Homo sapiens: one gene and its partners. The main gene of each other region encodes a partner of the protein of the gene in region 3 in a complex. Each region holds a gene or a part of one and is shown on either strand. Other genes may lie near its edges. The genes, in order: UNC79, NALF1 and NALCN. A codon is read from its position in the direction of its gene.

What was found.
Region 1: the proteins of NALCN (region 3) and UNC79 are in contact, whole or in part, in a cryo-EM structure (PDB 7SX3), measured with the Homo sapiens proteins. Residues at the interface, in NP_001337678.1 of Homo sapiens: Gln349, Met350, Phe351, His352, Glu353, Gly358, Trp359, Gln360, Leu361, Phe712, Ser713, Ile714, Arg717; in NP_001333147.1 of Homo sapiens: Cys861, Gln862, Ile865, Glu968, Pro969, Asp970, Phe1020, Gln1022, Pro2088, Asp2089, Ala2092, Pro2093, Leu2095, Leu2096, Met2099, Leu2139, Pro2141, Asn2142, Gly2143, Ile2144, Gln2147, Leu2148, Ser2151.
Region 2: the proteins of NALCN (region 3) and NALF1 are in contact, whole or in part, in a cryo-EM structure (PDB 7CM3), measured with the Homo sapiens proteins. Residues at the interface, in NP_001337678.1 of Homo sapiens: Cys207, Val209, Asn220, Leu222, Ala223, Ile224, Pro225, Thr227, Tyr237, Pro240, Phe243, Tyr406, Glu409, Phe909, Ala1044, Lys1045, Asn1047, Pro1049, Arg1054, Ile1060, Arg1062, Ile1063, Asn1064, Val1065, Ser1066, Lys1069, Lys1080, Lys1081, Gly1083, Phe1084; in NP_001073865.1 of Homo sapiens: Lys278, Glu281, Phe282, Val285, His287, Lys288, Tyr289, Leu290, Gln291, Glu294, Tyr295, Ser296, Val297, Lys298, Ser299, Tyr308 (codon at 4,283), Trp311 (codon at 4,274), Leu312 (codon at 4,271), Gln315 (codon at 4,262), Leu335 (codon at 4,202), Gln338 (codon at 4,193), Thr339 (codon at 4,190), Cys341 (codon at 4,184), Phe343 (codon at 4,178), Ile344 (codon at 4,175), Leu345 (codon at 4,172), Pro346 (codon at 4,169), Asp347 (codon at 4,166), Asn348 (codon at 4,163), Asp349 (codon at 4,160).

The regions. Positions count from the first base shown.
Region 1 is NC_000014.9:93,699,905-93,707,013, reverse strand, and holds part of UNC79 (protein unc-79 homolog), read right to left. Parts: intron 2,390-7,109; coding exon 2,348-2,389; intron 311-2,347; coding exon 110-310; 3' UTR 1-109. UniProt on the Homo sapiens protein: Auxiliary subunit of the NALCN sodium channel complex, a voltage-gated ion channel responsible for the resting Na(+) permeability that controls neuronal excitability.
Region 2 is NC_000013.11:107,206,467-107,213,575, forward strand, and holds part of NALF1 (NALCN channel auxiliary factor 1), read right to left. Parts: intron 4,290-7,109; coding exon 4,118-4,289; intron 1-4,117. UniProt on the Homo sapiens protein: Auxillary component of the NALCN sodium channel complex, a channel that regulates the resting membrane potential and controls neuronal excitability.
Region 3 is NC_000013.11:101,413,492-101,420,564, forward strand, and holds the start of NALCN (sodium leak channel NALCN), read right to left. Parts: upstream 3,018-7,073; 5' UTR 2,822-3,017; intron 1-2,821. UniProt on the Homo sapiens protein: Voltage-gated ion channel responsible for the resting Na(+) permeability that controls neuronal excitability. NALCN channel functions as a multi-protein complex, which consists at least of NALCN, NALF1, UNC79 and UNC80.

The DNA of each region.
Region 1 (7,109 bases), on a different chromosome or scaffold from region 3:
GAGAATGTACAGTACCAATATGTTCCCCAACCTGCTTGGATCAAATTGTTTGTTTTTAAACCCATTATTGCTAAACCAGAGTGTTGACACTGAGCGCCGAGGAGTCCACTCATAGAGGATAAAATTGAGAGGCTGCTTCCGAGGACTGGATCTCCACCTGGGCCATTTTGAACTGAGTGCACTGCAACCACTTTCGGAGGGCTGCCAGGCCAGCACTGCTCTGGCCCGAGCCCGGCAGCGTCCTTAGGCTGTGGTGGTTCACGTGGTTCTGAATAGCCTGGAGGCGAAGCTGGAGTCCCGCAGATAAGTGCTGTCGAAAAAGGGCAAGAGGTTTTAGTTTATTTCTTTTCACGGGCAACCCAGGGAGTGTCGACCCGGGCGGCTTCTTGCAGGCAGAATTTAGGCTTGGCTCAAGGGTTGTCTGGCCTGAAGAAGGCAAACTCTCTACTCTGGCAGTGCCCAGGGCGGGGGATCGCACCGTGTTTTCTAGAGTCGTCCTGGCCCAAACCCATCATAATAATGACATGCTCACCTTGACAGACTCACTGCAATGAAAACATAAAGCTGCCACACCAGTGCTGGGCTAACACATAAACTTGGCCCCAGTGAACTGTTTACGACAGGGACCTGGTGTGGTGGTGAAGTGCCCGGGTTCTGCTGTCAGGATCCCTGTGTTCAAAGCCTGGCTCTTCTATAGGCGACTTTGGGAACAAGGTTTATTGGTCCGTGTTTGGGTTTTCTCATGGGTAAAGGGGGGATAGTGACACTTACTCAGGGGGTTTGTGTAGGACAAATGGGTTAAAAAAGTGCTCAGAACAGAACTTGGCACATGAAGAAGCTAGGATGATAGCTTCTCTTCTTTCTCCAAGCTTCTTAGGGAGTTCTGTCGGCCTGCTCCTGGCCATCTGGGCAATCGCCACAGATTGCCATAAAGCCGGGAAAGGGTAAGAGAGGCAATTTAAAATGCTTCAAGCTGAGAGTGCAAGAAACTCTCTTTTCACAGAAAAAACTAGTACCGAGAGGCAGTTTTCAGCAGTGCCCATGCCCCCGACGGCCGCCACAAATAGCACCAAGGCCGTAATCAGGACTCAAAGGCTGTGGTCATTGTTGACAGCCGCATTTTTCTCTTTTGGTGTCTGGGTACCCTGAGTTCATACCGCTTTCCTTCCACTAGCATCCCTCCCCAACTCGGAGAAGAAACCCAGCAAAAAACTTTCCAGCTTTTCCTCCCATCCCCCTGACACTCTTAGTGCTACAGACAGGACCCGGTTTGGATGGAGCAGGCAGCTGGCTTTGCCATCTTAAGTCACGCCCAGTAACTCTGTTTGCTGGTCATAGAGTATGTTTGCCCCTACAATGACAAAGCGCCAGTCAAGGCAAAGCCTGGGGCTGGGAAACATATTCAGGCGGGATCTCCTCTTTTAGGCTGTGGGGCCCTGACCAAGTCACTCTTCCTTTTGGTCCTAAATTTCTTCATATATAAAATGAGGCAGTAGGTTCCTTGTAGCTCAATCCTATCATTTATTTGAGGTTGTCCTGTCATAACAGAATTCTTCTCATGATAGAAAATCCATTTTAGCAACCAGGACACATCACTGAATGTGCCTAGGTATCCTCCAAGGGGTCGGTATGCTACTCCTCTTTTTTTTTTTTTTTTTTTTTTTTTGAGAGACTGGGTCTTGCTCTGTCTATATATACACAATCTTGTTACTGCAAATAGTGACAGTTTATTTTTTCATTTCCAATTTATATTTCTTTGATTTCTTTTTTTAAAATAGAGACAGGGTCTCACTCTGTTGCCTAAGCTGGAGCGCAGTGGCAGGATCATAGCTCACTGTAGCCTCGAACTCCTGGGCTTCCAAGTGATCCTCCCACCTCAGCCTCCTAAGTAGCTAGAACCACAGGTGCATGCCACCACAGCCAGTTAAATTTTTATTCTTTTGCAGAGATGGGGTCTCGCTATGTTGCCCAGGCTGATCTCCAACTTCTGGCCTCAAGCAAACCTCCCACAATGGCCTCTCAAAGTGCTGGGATTACAGACAGAAGCCATTGCACCCGGCCTCGGCCTGTACTCTCATCAGTGGATTGAGGCTTGCTCAGACCCTGGGATACCGCCCTCCACTGCATCCTCACCAACCTCAAGCAGTAGGACAATGGTTCCTGCTGCCACCCCCTGCCTGCAGAGCCCTTACCTGGCCCACAGGTCTCCTGCATTATCAGCCCTCTAAGGCCAGGAGCAGGTTGAATTCATCCTTCTCCATAGTAAATGGAGCATCAACAATCCCTAGGAACGTTATACGTTCTCTGCAGGAAACCGAGCTTCCAATCAGCCCAGGGAGTGACTTACCTTGATATTTGACTGAATCATTGGCAACCACATAGGTATCAGCTGTATAGAGAAAGACAAAAGCTTCATTATTAGTGTCCTCTATTCTCCCACAAAGCTTCGCTCATTGCAAGGGAAAACAGGCCACATTGAATCCCTTTCACGTCGCGCACGGATGTGGGCCCTGCTGCAGGGCTACCCGTTATCAGCAAAATGTCTTTCTGAGGCCAAACCCCGCTGAGCCAGTGGCATTTGGAGGTTAATAAGCGCCCCATGAGTGCCTGAGATACACACTTTAGAGTAAATGACTGATTGTCTCTCGAAAGCTACCAAGCACAGGAAATTAAATGTGTATTTATTTAATTAAATCCTCACTTTCTTGAAATAGAATTTCCTCCACAGGATCTTTAGAACTGAGTGTCTGAGTGGAATGGCGACTCTATTTGCCTGTAGTCATTAAGAAAATATCTCTGGTCAGTGGATGGAACACTTAAGTGAGCGAGAAAGACCACTCCAAGATGCCTGGCTGCGATCTGGAAGGTGTAATACAGCGAGACTGAGCCGGGTGTCTGCGAAGTGTGGGAGCACACACAGCCAAGCAGCAAGTCCCTGCTGGAGAACCCTGGCCCTCTGCTGCCTCTCTGACAGGACCTCAACCCCTCTGATGTGGTCCTTCCTGGGAGGAGGTCATAGGTGCCCTGGCCTGAGGACCTCCAGAAGCTGCTCCTTCTCTCTGCTTTGGGCCCTCCTCCGTGTTTCAGTCCTTTAAAATCTAAGTAAATATTCATGGCCTTGTGCATCCAGAAGTCGGAGACAGAATATGGCATTCCTCAAACTGTGTCCCATGGCACTCTAATTTGGAGAGCTTTTAAATGGTGGAGGGGGACTCCGATCCAATAGGTTTGGAAATGTTAGTTTCTATATTTCAGTACTTCTCAGATCTTTAATACACCAATATGCATCATATCATTTCGCTCCATATTCCTTCCAACCCTCCACTCAAATAAAGGAGTAGTGTTGTCATGCATTGAATTGTGCCCCATTAAAATCTATATTGAGGTCCTAATCTGCACTGCATCACAATGTGACCTTATTTGGAAATGGGATTGTTGAATATGTAAATTAGTTAAGATGGGGTCATACTTGAGTAGGGTGAGCCCCTAATCCAATATAACGGGTGTCCTTATAAAAAGGGGAGTTTAGACACCTACACACAAACACACAGAAAGCATGCTATGTGAAGATGAAGACAGGGACCTACAAGCCAAGGAACCCCAAAGACCCAGCAAACCACCAGAAGCTAGGAGACAGGTCTGGAACAAATTCTCTCTCCAATCCCTTAAAAGAAACCAACCCTGCCGACACCTTGATCTCAGCCTTCTGGTCTCCAGAACTTCCAGGGAATACATTTCTGTTGGTTGAACCACCCAGACTGTAATACCTTGGTAGTCCTGGGAAGCCAGAACAAGGGCATTCCAGGAAGCAGAGAGAAGGCATGGCGAAGCTCATTGGTGGGAGTGTGCAGAGAGTCGGGGAGGGGAGACAGTCACGTGATGCTGACATGTGAGGCTCTTAGAAAACGGCCATGAAAAACAAGTTTAGAAAAGCACAGGCCAGGCCTTCACACCCTTAGCCCACCAGATGGCCCTAAATGCCAAATTAGGGGATCTGAATTTTATTCCAAATTCAATACAACTTCCGAAGAGGGGATGCTCTATTCACCATGAGCAAAACAGTGCTCCAGACAGATCACCGTGGCAGCAGCCTGCAGATTAGGGTGAAGAAGGAGGCAGGGAATGGAGGCAAGAGCCACTGTGGAGGTTGCCTCAATGGTCCAGAGAAGACCAGGGACAGTTTCTGGGGATGGGGAAGGATTCCACCTGCAGAGACAAATCTTGAGGATCTGAGGATGAGTCTGCTCTTTCAAGTGAGGAAAAGGTCAAAGAAGAGGTAGAGGTTTCTAACCTGGGCAAACTGGGGGACACTGATGTAATGAACAAAACCAAAGACGAAGGAGAGCTTTTTGGGATGGGGGACAGTATGTGAATGACCTCAGAGTTCAAAGTTAGTCATAGCCATAAGCTGCTGGTTTCATTGAATTCATCACATTTTCTTTAAAATGAACTTGGTGAAGTGATAAGCTGCATTTCTCTCCCTGTTTTTGTTCCCAAGGCTAAATCTGGCTGTTGTTTGACTTTTAACATTCTGTTGATGTATATAATTCGCTAATTTGACTTCTATTGACATTTACTCCTAAACATTCCTAAACGTAGTGTTTCTGTTGCAGCTAGCTAACACTTGGTCTCTAACATGAATACTGTGTTTATAAATGGAGTATGGTGTGTATCAGAAAATGTAATGAGACTAAAGCTGAAAATATCAGAAGATGCCACCCTCTCCATGCCTCCCCCTGTCCCCCAACCCTCATAACAAAACGGTGGGATTACAAAGATTGGTACCAGATAAGGCTGTGCCCTCTGACCCTTACTAGGACTGGCTCCTCTAGACATTCTGAATGGAAAAAAAAAATTTATCTAGTCTAACTGTCTCCCCCTATAATTTCTGCACAGCAAAAAGCAAGCCCTGGAGGGTGCTGATGCTACAGACTTTGTTGACCTTTGACTATTTAATACAGAAGTGGGCCCATACGCCTCTTGATATTTGGGAAATACCCAAACTAACCTCCTGTTAAGAATTGTGAGGGACTTGAGAAGAGTAGGGTCAGGGAGTACTGAGTACCCTGTCCCTGGGTGGATACCTTTCCCAGTGCTGCCACTGTGGCTAAGCGTCCATGTGAAGCAAGCAAGGGGAATAGTGATGTTGGTCTAAAAGTGTTTTTATTATTTCCCCATTGATGTAATCTATGACCATGTGATTCTAAAATATACCTGCAAGGGACCTTCAGGTTTGTGATTTGCAAATCACGTGACTAAATGTATCCAGTTAAAGCTCATCATTATTGATGACATTATATAACCCAGCCATCACCCTATTTCAGAAATGTTAATTTGACTTATTGAATAACTTTCATTTTCATTCTCTTTTGCTAGTGGTTCCTACAAATCTGTCAGTAAGAATTAGATGTGATTTATTTTGGGCTCTGCAATGTTATGATGGAGTAAAGTTGGTTGGGCTTTTTTTTCTCCCCCCTCTTCAGAAACAATATCCTGAAAACTGAAGGACATTTAAAAAATAGGTTTTCACAAGAATAAAAGTGATACCCTTCCTCTTATCTTGGTTCATGCTACAGAACAAATGGAAGACTTCCTGCCTGGTTGGACTGTACTCATTTCAATCCTGCTTATTCCAGCCCTCAAAATTAAAATTGGTGATGAAACTTTCTCTTTCAGCCAAGATGGAGTAACAAAGACCAGATTTACCCTCCTGCCTGGGACAACTAAAAATCCAGACAAACTATAAAAAACAATGTTTTTCAGGTATTGAGCATCAAGAAATGCAGGACAGAGATCACTGAGGGAAAGGAAACAAACCAGGTGAGTCCTGCAGGTATTCCAGCTCACTGCCTAGAGAGAGTTTTCAGGCAGTAGCACTGGCAGCAGGAATGCAGGTGGAGCCTGGCAGTCTTCCTGAGTGAGGAGAGGTAGCCAGGAGCCCTGGGAGGTCAAAGTGACTACAGTTTTCAAGGTAGAGTACTGGACAGGAGAGATCTACAGAGAGAGAGACAACTCCAAAGATCTGAAAAGGGATCCCCCTGAGTCTTCAGCTGAGTGCTGACCAGTACATGCAAGTTATAAAAACTACCCAACACTGGAGAAAAAACGACCCGAAAATCTTAGAAGGAAAAAAATCCCCTGGTGATTATATAGGGCCAAGAATATTTTGTGTTCCTATTAGTCAGAGTGGAAAAATCTTATAACTCATAGAACATCATGAGAGTACTGATAAGGATAGTGGTATACAGCAGCAGCAGTGAAGAACTACGTGCCCTACAAAAATTGCTGCTCTGATCAATACCTAACAAAGCTTAAATGTTAGCCTCAGAAGGATAAAGATATTTGTAAGTTATGTAACTATGTCACAGAATACAGCTTAAGAATATTTTATATGAATATAAAAATATCCATCACCCAAGAAAGTCAAATTAACAATGTCAAGAATACAATAAAAAATTACCAGGCATGCTAAGAAACAACAACAACAAAAGAAACACACGAATGAGGAGAAAAATCCATTAACAGAAAATAAAACAAAAATGACACAGATAACAGAACTAACAGACAAGGACATTAAAACAGTTATGATACCTATATTCAATATGGTCAAGAAGGTAGAAGAAAGATTGGGCATGTTGAGTAGAGGCACTGAATAAAATATTTGAAGAAACAATGGCTGATATTTTTCCAAATCTAATGAAAACTATAAATCCAGAGATTCAAGAAGCTCACCAAACCCAAGCACCAGAAATATGAAGAAAACTCTACCAAGGCATAGCATCATCAAATTGCTTAACCATAGTGGCAAAGACAACAGAGGAAAAAAGACATATCACATACAGACAAAAAAGATAAGAATGACAGATTTCTTGTTGGAAACAATATAAGCAAAAAGACAATGGAGGAGCAATATCTTTAAAGTATTGAAAAAAAAAAAAAACCTCCGAAACCATCCATCTAGAATTCAATACCCAGTGAAACTGTCTTTCAAAATTGAAAGCAAAATAAAGCTTCTAAAACATACAAAACCTAAAACAATTAATCACCAGCTGACCTGCACAGGAGACTTTACAGAAAATCCTTTGGGCAGAAGGAAAGATGAAAGATGA
Region 2 (7,109 bases), 5.8 Mb from region 3:
ATTTAAAACTTTCAAATTTGGTACATGGTGATGTGAGCACCATAAAGAAATGATGCACGAGATACTGAATTTAGTAAGTGTGACCAAAATGGTAAATAACTCCTGATCATTTACAGAAATTGTTCATTGATTCCAAGGGGTGATATTCCCTTTTTTGTGAATAATAGGAATCCTAGGTATCAGTATATAGCCAATAGGACAATGACAGGAAGAACTTGAGATCTCTAAGATTCTGGGTACAGAGAACGCTAAGAAAAGGAATCACCATGCCACTGGTTTGTCACTAAGGAGAAGCACCTTGAAGAAAACTGATGCTCACATGGACAGTATCTGTCATCAGGCCATGTGCAGTTACGTGCTTACAGAATACTTTTTTTTGAGGTCAATAAGAAAAGTAAGTGAAGAATCCTCGATATCCTAGAGGGAATTCTCCGTCCTTCTGGAAGCTGTGAATTGGATGCAGTTCAAATAGTAGGAAAACCATTATAATTAAATCTGTTGAATTTGAAGGAAACTCCACCTATTCCTTTAATTCTTAGTGAGAAATGATTGCATTTTAACATCTAGAGTGGAAATCAAATGCTTGATGATTTTTTTCAAAAAGAAAAATTGCTGGAGGCAAGAGGAAGGTCACCTTACTTGGTGAATTCTTTTTGATGAAGTTACTGCATTTTACTTGGTTTCATAACCTACTCTCATTTTTTTATTTTATTCTGGGCATACCATCTCCCTTCCCATTTCTTTTTTCCCTTAAACTTTGATATATTTATTAAAATATTTTGTATGAGATTAAATGATGCTATAACTACACTGGTCTTTTTATTATTCTGTTTTCAGAGAAAAAAAACAGAATGTAAATGGCTCACATTTACTTGCAAACTTATTTATAATGTAAACTATTTAAAAATCCGTGTACATTTGTAGGAGACGGACATCCAAAAATGTGCAACTTAAAATCTGGGAACAAATTATATGCACATATGTCTTACTAGTTTCCTTAGACGCATGACAAGCCACTCCACAGTTTAGCCAGTGGTCCTCTGGGAGCTGTCCTCTATTCTAACATCATCCAAGATGAAACCCATTCTGGGGCCCATGTCTGGGACTCTTATAAGCAACGGGCAGGCAGCTGTGATGGACAGGAGTAGAAATCTCCTTGCTCAGGTCCAGCAGTGCACTCTTTCATTTTCTTTTTCATTTGAGACAGGGTCTCGCTATGCTGCCCAGGCTGGAGTGCAGTGGCAGGATCACAGCTCACTGCAATCTCCAGCACCTGAGCTCAAGCAATCCTGTCTCTGCCTTCCAAATAGCTGCGACTACAGGTGCACATAACTGTGTCTGGCTAGTTCTTTTATTTTTAATTTTTTGTAGAGGCAGGGTCTTGCTACGTTGTCCAGACTGTCCTCAAACCCCTGGCTTCAAGCAATTCTCCTATCTCAGCCTACCAAAATTGTGTGGATTACAGGCATGAGCCACTGCATCTGGCCTCAGCAGTGCACTCTTAAGGGACACCTGTAACCGATGATGGGAAATGATGGCTGCTAGTTATCAACATGAATGAGAATTCTTCAAAGAGGCACAGGTCACACCTTAGAAAAGAAGATCAATATGAAAATTATTATCTTTTTCTGTCAGATTGTTTTACAGAACTTCAGGGTGAAATAACCTCAGAATTTATTCCATATATTTTCGAGCAATTTAAACATAAAATGAACATTAACCCAACTGAAAGTGACATAAGAACTACTGTTCTTAGGTTTCCAAATGTTCAGTGATGAGATTATCCTAGGGGGCCTCTCACGGAGATGGCACTTTTCTCTGGATCTGATAAATCTCTCTTTTCCTGCCACTTTTCCTTAATGACGTAGCTATGTCTATGAAGAAGCTGTTTTTACCAAACTCGAAAACAATTAAAACTGCAGACTGGATTCTCTGCCCATGTTGTGAAGTGAGAGATTTAATTCTACCCTGGCATTCTGAATGTGTATGGAGGAAGTGGGTGAACATTCAAACATATATTTCAGATTCACAAATACAGATACATGTAGGAAAAAGAAGATAAACGCAAACACCTCGCCCTTCATTTGGGTTTTTTGTCTACTTTGAGAACTTGGTTCAAAAACTATTGTTCTTCTCTAGGACAAAAGCCAATGTGAGTGTAAATGCATAAACACAACCTGTACATAAAAATCGAATAGCTTCTCTGAAGTCCTCATGTCACAGACACCTCATTGTCCCACAAGAAAAAAAAAATGAAGGCCTTATCTTCATGGTTATTTGTGGAATGTTGTATGCAAAATTCAATATGAATTAATAGCCTGTGTCTGGTGAATTTTGTCTCAAACTCAAAGCAAGAAGATATTGATATCCTCCTTCCCTCCTTCCCTTATTCCTTCTTTCCCTCTTCCCTCCTTCCTCCCCCTCCTCCCCCTCCAGCAGAGAGGAGCTACATAAAAAATGACTTGAGCATCAAGTCAGTAGAATAACACACAGGCCTGTGAAATCATTCTGCATTTCACTTTCTCGTGTGCAACGGCTATGGCTGGTCAATGACATAACTTGCCCTTCTCTCTTATCTGTAATCCTTGCAGCATATCCACATGGGGGAGGGTTTGGCCATTGCACTTTCTAATTTACTAGTGAAGGGGTGGTGCCTCTGAGAGAATGTACAATAGAAACAGGATGAAGGCCAATGCTCCTGACCTTCAGTCACGTGTTCTTTCCACAAGCTTGGGCAGCATAAGAAATACTAATCCAGGCTGGGCACAGTGGCTCACGCCTGTAATTCCAACACTTTTGGGAGGCCAAGGAGGGTGGATCACTTGAGGTCAGGAGTTGGAGACCAGCCTGGCCAACACGGTGAAACACCGTCTCTACTAAAAATACAAAAATTAGCCAGGTGTGGTGGTGCACGCCTGTAATCTCAGCTACTCGGGAGGCTGAGGCATGAGAATCACTTGAACCCCGGAGGCGGAGCTTAAAGTGAGCCGAGATCACACCAGCCTGGGTGACACAGAGCGAGACTCCATCTCAAAAAAAAAAAAAGAAAGAAATACTCATCCAGTTCTTAGGGCGAGCTTTGGCAGACTATCTCTTGATAGCTTATCACTTAGAACACTGTGGCTAATGAATACGTATGTAAATAAGCGATGCTGAAATAATTTGATAAATTCTCATGTTGAGCATCTTAATATGCTACTCTGTTTTAGAGGAGTTTGGCAAGTCTAATGTCAGAAGAGCATTTTCATGTGTCTCTACACATATGATGGTGTTTTATCCTTACACTTGAAAACAAAACGTGCTACAGCTTGAGCCACGTAATTCCAGGGACGCCTTATAGCATTATTGTTATAGAAGAGAATGCAGAGCCACCACTCGGATTATCACACCACCCTGGCAAAGTATCTTGTTCTCACCATTTAATTATCTTTTTATTTTTTAAAAAAAGGCTCTTGCTCTTTATATCTTATTCTGTCTAAATTATGTAATGCTTATAAATATCCAGAAAAGGAGTGCTGATATTGGTGTTTTGCCCAGTCTGACTCATTTGCTGAAAGAAGTAAACATCGTTTAATGGATAGACTTGTTGTGTGGCTCTAATAGACACACACACACACACACGTACAATTTAGGCAGATATTTTTAATGCTCTTAATACTTTTTACAGATAAAGTAACATAAAAATTCTCAGAAAATAAAATAAAAGAAAATAGGCAAGAGAACATAAACTTCTGACTAATTTGAAAAGCATTATTTCACTGGCCTTAGCACATCTCCTGTTCTTATGGAATTCAAAGGCAATGCAGGCTGAATCTAACCTATACTAGGTCACATGTAAGTATATCTAATGATTGCTAATATTTTGCCATCAGATTTCTTCTTTCACACAGTGAATAACTGTGGTCTCAGTTACAGATAGACCATGTGGTACAGAAGCTGAATCATTTCCAGACCTGTTGAGGGGAGCTTTCGGTGCTTCTATTAGTGAAAGTGCGGAAAACTACCAGCCGCATCTTCAAGGTTATATCAGTGAAAGGAAACAGCAAAGCAAACAAACATCACACAAGAAAGCAAAACCACCGGAGACTGGTGTACAGACTCCCACCCGGCACTGTACCTGTACAGATGAAACTGGAGAGGCCTCCGTAGATGACTTCATCATTGTCGGGCAATATAAATGGACACCTCGTCTGAACCTCCAAACAGTATTGCTTGCAAGGAATTGTCTTTCTGCAGTTAAACTGTGTGACTTCAAAATACTGGGAACAGAGCCAGGCTTTGTAGACAATCTGAAAAAAAGAGAAGAATGAAAAATATAGAGGCGTGACAACAGTTACAGTGATAGAGGCACTGTGAGAAGCGTGCAAGCGTGCTGTGGTTTCAAGTGGATCCTAAGAGAGCCCTCATTGTGAGAAAGCGTATTTACACAACGACAGCTGCAAGTGATAAAAACACAGCAACGAAAGTCTCCGCAATAAAAGCAAAACAGTATTTGATTGCATCCCTAATAGAATGTAAAAGGTATTTTGACCTTTAATTTTATGTGGCTTATTTGAAAATCAGTGGATTTAAGCAGGAAGTTAATTTTTCAAAATTCAGCGATATCTAAAGTAAAATAAATAATTGACTCTATTGCTCTTCTGTGCTGTAGTTACTTGCAACGTGGCTGATGAGCCAGTTCCCTCCACACGGAGTCCCACGTCTATGCCTCCATAGGACGCTAGATGGCGCGAAGCACTTTATAAAGATGGCCCAGCAGGGGTTGGGAAACTGCTGTTTAGATCTTGGACTTTGAGAGGCAGAGAACAGGCAGATATGGACATTTACATTCATGACTCACACCAAATGCATTAAAAATCTCACTGTCTGAAAGCCCAGAAACACCCGACATAGAGCAGACATCATATGCTGTGGTGTGGTTGGGAGTAGGAGGGAAGCCTCATCAGAGCCACAGCTTCAACCTTCTGGATGATGTGCAAGCCACATCAATGTTTGCTACGTATTTATGTAATTTCATCAAATGTGAAAGGACTGGGACTTCATTCATCTCTTTGTTTTGGTGGCTATTTGGGAAAACAAACATTGAAAAAATTGCCTTTTTCTGACACGAAGGAATAAGCTGATCTTAAATTCAAATACAACAATGGCAGATGTACCAATTTGCAGTACAGGTTACTGAAATTCAGTTATTCTCCAGGTCCTTGGCACTAATGGCTTTTACTTATCTATTTCTAGGGTTAATATTATCCAAGTAACATTTTGCCGGTTATATTTTACCTAGAAAAATGGAGGCGCAGCAGTTAAAGGTAGCCTAAGAGATTATAAATACCTAATAATAACAAGAATAATAGCTGGTATTTATCAACTTTATACTCTTTTCTAAGTAAGCTGTAAACTTTTTTTTCCATGTGATTCTCAGCATGCACTTTTGACCATAACTATTACTCACATTTTGAACAGGAATAATATTAAGTAATAGTACTATTAGGTAATGGAAATGGAAAATCCAGACTTCAAACCCATGTTCTGTAGGGCTCCAAAGACTGTGTTCCTAATAGTTATCCTATATTTAATCTGAAAACTACTTTTAAAGCACTTATGAAATCACAAGGGAGTTTGCAGATGAACCTAAAATCAGCATGGCCTTCCATGCCCCGGGTCAATATCTATTTGGTAGAAGGAGGATTGTATTTTTTTATTCATAACATTAGGTTGATCAAAATGACGCTTTATTCTGTGATCAAGGTGACTTGGTAGAGGTAAAATGAGATAAATATCAAAGTGAGATACACTTTTAAATGGCCAAAAGTAATTTTTCTTTGCCAGTCATCAATGGCTCACAATCACCATGTAACTTGTTAGTAAAACCTACAAATAATTAGAATTCTTATAGGTCTTTTGAATGAGTCTTCTCGTAACAGTGTACACTGAAAAACTGCACTAGAAGAAAACGTTACAATAGCCGAAGAAACCTCTAAGAATTCTTATGCCAACTGGGAAACGGAGGTGGGCTGTGGCTGTGTGCCCCAGGAGGACAGCAAGAGGCTGCCTCAGGGGGACAGGTGAAGGTGGAGGTGGTGCCGGCAGCAAGAGGCTGGAAGCACCAGCTTCAGAAGAAAAAGTGAAATGATTTCTTAACCAAACCATGGGGAAGTTGAAAACGTTTGTCAAAATGCCATAGACATTGACGTTTGTGTAATATGACATGATACGTAATATGACATGACATTTATTATGTAAACTAAGCTGTAGTATAGGAATGAGCCATGTATCCTCTGATTCCTGGGCTTAATAACCTTTCTCAGGTACTAGAGGAAGCAGGATAGGCTTATACCTGCAGTTCAAAAAATAACATTCCATTATGAGGACAGCTTGCTTTCCGCACATTTCTGGGATTCTAAAGTCTAGAGTTGCCTGTTTTTCTTTAAGGAGTGCCCTATGTAATGCCAGAAAGTGGCTCATGTTTTCATTGGCCAAATTGGGGTCCCCATTCCCACCGCTCCCTCACACGTTGCCTTTCCACCGTTATTCCAGTTAAAATGGGTTCTGAATAGGGAATCGCATCCTGCAGCCATAAAGTCTTAAGAAACAACGTCTCCTCTCTCGCAGACGGTGGGGCGTCCAGTATTGGAGTCTCTTCAGATCTAGCCATCCTCTTTGCAACCACTTTCCTCAGCATTGCCCGATGGGAACATATCCATTTTTATTCTGGCTCCTTAAATTCTATTTCCGCTATATTTCCTTTGCAGATTTTTTTTTAACTCAAAAAAAAAAAAAAAAAAAAGAAAAGAAAAAGAAACTAGTAAGAGATCACAGCATTTTTTTTTAAGTATCAGGTAGTAGTTAGTTATGAAGAAAAGTGATCGAGCATCATTTGCAAAGCCGCCGGCAGAATCCCAGACCTTATACACTGAGCTATGACGACCTCTCCGGCCAGGCTCCACGGTGGCATCCGTTATGAGCTACCTCCTGGGCTTTGAGTGTGCAATGAATATTCCTCATTTGAGTATTAAATATTTTCTAAAATTTTAGCTCTAGGGGTAAGATACATCAGAAAACAAGTGGGGGAAACCATGTGAGCTGAATCGAAATCCGAAGGACGGAGGAGA
Region 3 (7,073 bases):
AGCCATTTACAATTTTTAAGTAAGAAAATTATATAGAAATATTTTAAATATTTATAATAAATATTCAGTGGTAAAAACAGTATAAAAGTTGTCCAATGCCACGATGACAACTACCTGAAGTCAAGCCCTTAAAAAGACTACAAAAAACACACAGATATTGTGGTCATCTGTCTTCGGTTATTAAAACTAGCTGTTTACTCTTTTTTCTCTATCATTCTATCATCTCTATCAACTTTGGTTACTTTAAAATTCAAAAAATCAATTAAAAAAATTTAAGCATTTGCATAGAGTTTGAAGGTATGAAAATCTGTGCTGGTCCTTGAGACAGGCGAGAATTGTATAACATGAGTGAAGCTCTAAAATGTTGATAACATTTTGGGACAGGGGCATTCTTTTTTTATTTTTAAACAGAGTCTCACTCTGTGCCCAGTCGCCCATTCTAGAGTACAGTGGTGCCATCATAGCCTGCTGCAGCCTTGACATCTCTGGGCTCACGCGATCCTTCCACCTCAGCCTCCCAAGTAACTGGGGCTACAGGTGTACACCACTACACTTGGTGAATTTTTTTTTTTTTTGTAGAGACGGGGTTTCACCATGTTGCCCAGGCTGGTCTGGACTCTTGGGTTCAAGCAATAGGCCTGCCTTGGCCTCCCAAAGTGCTGGGATTATAGGCATGAGCCACCGTGTGTGGCCTTGGGGACCATTCTTAATATGTTTAAGCTCACTATCATAGTTTCCACAGCAAAACTAGAAAATAAGACATCTCACTGTATATCCACCTGCTTACATATTTGTCTTTCCTGAAGGATTCTTAGGCTCTCAGTTTATCTCTTTTTCTCACTCACCACCCAGCTTCTGGCCCAGTGCTTAGCTTATCTTAGGATATAGAGGTGTAGATGTGAATTTTCATTCACAAACTTGAAATCCACATGTGACTCTGACCTGGGATAAATTTATACAGCTATGGAAATTCTGAAATTATCTGAACATCATCGATAAATGATAAAACAAATGTGTACATTTGTGTATACACATACATGCACACACAAAGCATGCCGGAATGATAAAATCACCTGGAAACCATTTCAAAGAAATGCCATACCCAAGAAGAAGAAAATGCTACTCAAATCTTCAGTTCACTAAATTGCAACTAAATGACACTATTTTGAGTAGACTTTTTTTAAGTACATTTTTTAAGTACATTTCTCCTTTGAATATCTTGCAAGTCCTATCCAAAGTTATAAGTGTACAACCACTATTTTATAAGACATGCTTTCTCCTAGAGTTCTGTAGAGATTTTAGCATAGTCCTTATCAGTGACGGCACATTTATTCTGCAAACAGATTATGTCTTCTATGAACACAGAAGAGGATCCAACTGAACCTTTTCACTTTTTAAGTTTTTCTCCAAAGCTGGATTTTGTCTTCACACTGTCTGGTTTTAGCAGTGGCTAGGTCAAAGTATACTACAGAAGAACGAAAAATCGACTCTAGAAAAGCACGCAGAATGACAGCCAACCAGTTAGGGAGTAAATGTTTCTCGTTGCAGATGTTTGGGAAGCCATGATTTTTATTTAGAACTGTGGAAACCTTATCTTTGAATTTAAAAAGCCAGTCCTGAGATGCATCTGCCTCAGGGGTAACTACCATAGTGAAACCGCTCCTCTCCCAGGCCATATCAAATCACAGTTGTAGTTATGAACATACAAATCACACACATATATATATATATATACATACATATATATTTCAAAATCGCCACCTGTTAATTTTTGATCCCCTATTAGAGGTGTTATCCACCAACTACTAACACGAAGGTCACTGGTCCTCAACCCACATTTCACCACCAGGGCAGTCGGGCCTAGCTGATGACCACACGAACACCAGATTAAGAGTAAAACCTTCTGAGGCCTGAAAGTGAGCGTGTATTCACACATCCTTAATAATACAGTGTCTGAAAAATTGTACCTGAAACTGAAAGATTTATTCTAAGGTATTTCAAGCACTAAGGGTCTGAGTTCAGCATTCTCACACCATCCTGAAAGAGGAACATTAAGTCAGCAAAATGACTGCGATCTGGGCCCCCAGAGGGATCCCAGCCAGGCCATCCTTGCTGGTGTCTTAAAGATTCAGTGACAAAATGGTGTTGCTTGGCAGGACACTGTTTTGCGTTCGGTGTAGCCACCCTAATGACGGCTGCTTAACAAGGCCAATGAATATCATAAGGGACATTTAGCAAGGAGCAATCCACAGGAGCATGGGGGTGGGGCAAGGCCGCGGAGCCCCCGCGGAGACCTGCTGGAGCCAGGCTGCCCACCCCCACCTCCCCACCCGCGCGTTGGCCCAGAGGTTTACCCAGGCAGCGGCCCTGGTGCCGAGGGGGCAGGTGCAGCGCTGTAGTGATGCCCAGTGGCCTCGTCCTCAGCCACCTGCCCCCCAACACCTGCTAGATGCCCAGGCGGGGCAGGCCCGAGGTGTCGCCGGCCCTGGGCTTCCCAAGCCAGCCCAGGGGCATCCCGCGGCAGGCGCCCCCGACACCCACGCGCAGGAATAGGGAGGGCGCATCGCGGCTCCCGCGCCCCGGCCAGGCCGGCAAGGACCCCACCGCCCCGCTCTCGGGTGGAGGCGCCCCTCCCCACCCCTCCCCCGCGCGGGGCCCCCGCCCGCAGCCCCTCTAGCAGCCCCTCTCGCAGCCCCAGCGCCCCTGAGCCGTCCTGGCCCGGACCGGCCAAGGAACTAACGAGCGCGCATCGCGGGCCTCGGGCGCAGGGCACGGAGCCGGCCGCGCCGCAGCCTCCCGGGCACCGGCGGCGGTGACCAACCTGTAACCCCAGCGCTCAGAGCTGTCATGGTGCCCGCGGGCGGCGGCGGCGGCGACAGTGGGCGACCGGCAGGATCAGTGCCAGGCGCGGCGCCCAGGGCGGGCGGGGACGCGGGCCCCTCACCTACGGCGGCTCAGCTCAGGCAGCGCGCTCGGCCCGGCTGGGGCCGCGGCTCACGCTCGCCGTGTCACTCACTGAGCGCCGCCGCCGCCGGGCAGGCTGGGGGAGGGGTGGGAGCCGGAGTTTTCGGGCCTTTAAAAAATTATTATTTTATTTAAATTTTTAAAGTTAGCTTTGCTACAGGGACTGCAGTGATGCCGAAGGGCGGGCACCGCAGAGGAGGCTGCGCCGCAGTTGGTGGGGAGCGCCAGGGTCGGTACTGGCAGTTCCTTCTTGCCGGCTGCCACCCGCAGTCAGTCTCACAGCAACAGCTAGGCTCTCATCTGCGAGCTCCTCTCGGGGGTCTTTCGTACTCAACAGCACGGCGGCGGTGTGCACGGGAGTCCGCCGGGCACACGCGGGGTACACTTAAGTGCACTGCCAGGAGGCCGGGAGCCCAGCGTGCGAGCGTGAGGTCAGACTGTGCACGGTACCGAGGACTAGTTCCATTCCTGAGTATGAAAGGGTGAAACCGTTCACCTCAAGTTTCACCCCGGAGTTATTAAATAATGAATGCATCAGTCACACTTATAGTTTTCTAAATAGGTTGACGTTCGCCTTTAAAATTAAAATATGTTGTCGTGTGGATGAGACAAAGTCTATTCAGAAATTGACAGTCCCCCACCCCATACCCTGTGAGTATACCTGGACAGCAGACTGCATCTGAGGCTTCCTAGGGCTCCCAGCAGAGCAGGTTTAGGGAAATCTGGCCTCCTAAGCACCATGCCCAGGGCGACATCCTCCCACTCATTCCCACTCTCTGAAAGGTTTACTTTGGGTCTGGAATCTTGCCATGTAGTCAGATACGAAAATCCCCAGGGAACTCCTGACCAGTGATTTAGACATCATGCACACAGGCATATAAATAAAGGGAAAGAAACAACTGAATGAAGCTTTCTCTACAAGAGAAATTCTAAACAAAGAGCATTTGTCTATCACAAAATGTTATGTGGCAAGGTATAGAAGTAAAACTACACAAACCTACATTTTAAAAATGTATTTTCTGGTTACAGATATTTAATTAATCTACTTTCTTAAAAAGTCCATTCACAATTTGTTCACATTCATAATCCATATTAGTACGTTTTATTGTTTACAGGGAAATGTTAAAATATTGGTATTTCATGAAATACAGAGTCATGCGAGATAATTTTTCAAATTTCTAAAGACTTCAGAAAAACTGTGTCAAAAGCCAGGTTTTAAACAAATGATGAAATCACTCCTCATAAGAAAAAATTGACAGTAATTTAAACAATGCTAAATCTACAACCAGTTTGCTTAGAAAAAGTATTTACCAACTTGTTTCATCATCTTTATTTGCGGCTTTCAATTGCTTGTTCTAAATACTAGTTTATTTCACAAACTGAAATATATAGCTATATATATATGGTAGCTGAATGATAGTGTGTTATTCCTTGACATTCGTTCGAATTATCTGTTAGTAAATTATATTAAGGAAATATTTAAACATTTATTTATAATGTTTTGAAGTGGTCAAGGCAGTGATTTTTTACTAATCTCAGTGCCACTCCTCACCCAACAGGCATTTCAGACCTTTCTCTGTCCTTGGTTGAACTACCTCTGTTAAGTCTCTATAATTCATGCTCATGAGCCAAACAATCCCAATGATGATGGAGACAGTCTCAGAGAATTCATGGGCTTCAAGGAAGTCATGGAATCCAGCACACTCATCCTATAATGCATAGGGATTCACTGTGTATTGGAGTAGACAATCATTTTAAAAAACAGGTACATCCAAAATATCATAGTACCCCTTCTACCTGCTCAGTATCTCTCTTCTTTTGTTTTCTTTGTTATTTTTAGAGACAAGGCCTATCTCCGTTGCCTAGCCTGGAGTGCATTGATGTGATTATAGCTCACTGCATCCTCAAAGCAAAAGTAGAAAGGATGAACAAATATCTTTTCCAGGTTGAATTGGCCCTGTAACTACATTCATTGCTGGAATCCAGTAAAAGTCAATTGCTGGCCTGTGGGTTCAATATAAACTGAGAATATAATTCAGGTGTGTTTTGTATGACTCAATGTATATTGTTGACAAATTAAGATCAATTACCAACATTTGAAAACCACAAGAATTTTATTTTATCAGGAAAAATAGGAAGATATGGATAACAGGCAGCCTCCACCATGCCCAGCTAATTTTTGTATTTTTAGTAGAGACGGGGTTTTGCCATGTTGGCCAGGCTGGACTCGAACTCCTGACCTCAGGTGATCCACCCACCTTGGCCTCCCAAAGTGCTGGGATTACAGGCGTAAGCCACCATACCTGTAGGAGTCTGAGGCATGACAATCACTTGAACTGGGGAGGCAGAGGTTGTGGTGAGCTGAGATTGTGCCACTGCACTCCAGCTTGGTTGGGTGATAGAGTGAGACTCCGTCTTGAAAAAAAAAAAAGGAAGGAAGATCTGGCCAGGTCAGTTCTGCATTCCCAAGTGGTAGGGGGCCAATAGGGGCATCCTGTGCCTCCCATAGGTGGGCATATACTTCCCATTTGCCTCCATGTCCCCAGCCTGCTTCAATTCCTGGCCCTGGAAGGTGTTTGCATGTAGGAGCCTATACAATTAAATCTGTATTTGACGGTATGAGATTGGGGAAAGGATAATGTCAAACACAGAGAAAGCAGTCAATACAGAAAGTTTTACAATAAAGAGGATGAAGCCAAGCCAATGCACAACCAAGATAGTAGTAGCCTTTGGTTTAAATGAAATTGTGTTCATGGTCCTGCAAGTGCTTTGGAATGGATGTGATATCATTTGTCTGTGTCCCCATCCAAATCTCATCTTGAATTGTAGCTCCCACAATTCCCATGTGTTGTAGGAGGGACCTGGTGGGAGATAATTGAATCATGGGGGCAGTTTCCCCCATACTGTTCTTGTGGTAGTGAATAAGTCTCATGGGATCTGATGGTTTTATAAGGCCCTTTCTCTTGGTCTTCATTTTCTCTCGTCTGCTGCCGTGTAAGACGTGCCTTTCGCCTTCCACCATGACTGTGAGGCCTCCCCAGCCATGGGGAACCGTGAGTCCGTTAAATCTCTTTTTCTTTGTAAATCACCCAGTCTCCAGTATGTCTTTATCAGCAGGATGAGAACAGACTAATAATACAGGAAGTAGCTATGAAATGCAAGACAGCAAGAATTTGATGAAAACAGGGTATTTGTTTTTCACTAACTCATTTGTTCCTACTGCTTATTTCCACCTTAATTAGTATTTCACTGGACACCATGGTGAGTTACTGGGAAAACAATAGGCATGCTAAAAGAGAAATTTGAAAATCCATGGAGGGACTGTCCTGTGCTCTATGGAAATATAGACACTGAATCAATTGGAGAAGAATTCTGCTCGAATATAATTATGTTTCATTTGATTTATGAGTAGATTATGCTTTAGTAACTACACAAGACTGTAATATTTTTGAGACTCTCATTAAGATTAGGTTTTTTTTTTTTTGAGATGGAGTCTCGCTCTGTCACCCAGGCTGGAGTGCAGTGGCGCAGTCTCGGCTCACTGCAAGCTCTGCCTCCCGGGTTCACGCCATTCTCCTGCCTCAGCCTCTCCGAGTAGCTGGGACTACAGGCGCCCGCCACCACGCCCGGCTAATTTTTTTTTATTTTTAGTAGAGACAGGGTTTCACCGTGGTCTCGATCTCCTGACCTCATGATCCACCCGCCTCGGCCTCCCAAAGTGCTGGGATTACAAGCGTGAGCCACCGCGCCCGGCCTAAGATTAGTTTTAATCCGTATACACTTGTTTATGTTCTGTGATTTCAAGACCCACATGTCACCAAATATTGCTATGATGAACTTTTAGATGCTCTTTGGGCAGGGAAAATTAAGGTTTAGAATACACACCTAAAAATGTAAACAGGCTAACTAATAGGCATCTCCTGCTTGTTGCCTCACTAACATGGATTTACATGTACAGGCGTTCCTGGAAGACAGTGCAATTTGGTTTCAGACCAATGCAATAAAGTACATATCACAATGAGGCAAGTCACACAATTTTTTTTTATATTCCAATGCATATATAAGTTATGTATACACTGTACTGTATACTAAAATATATATATATCTTA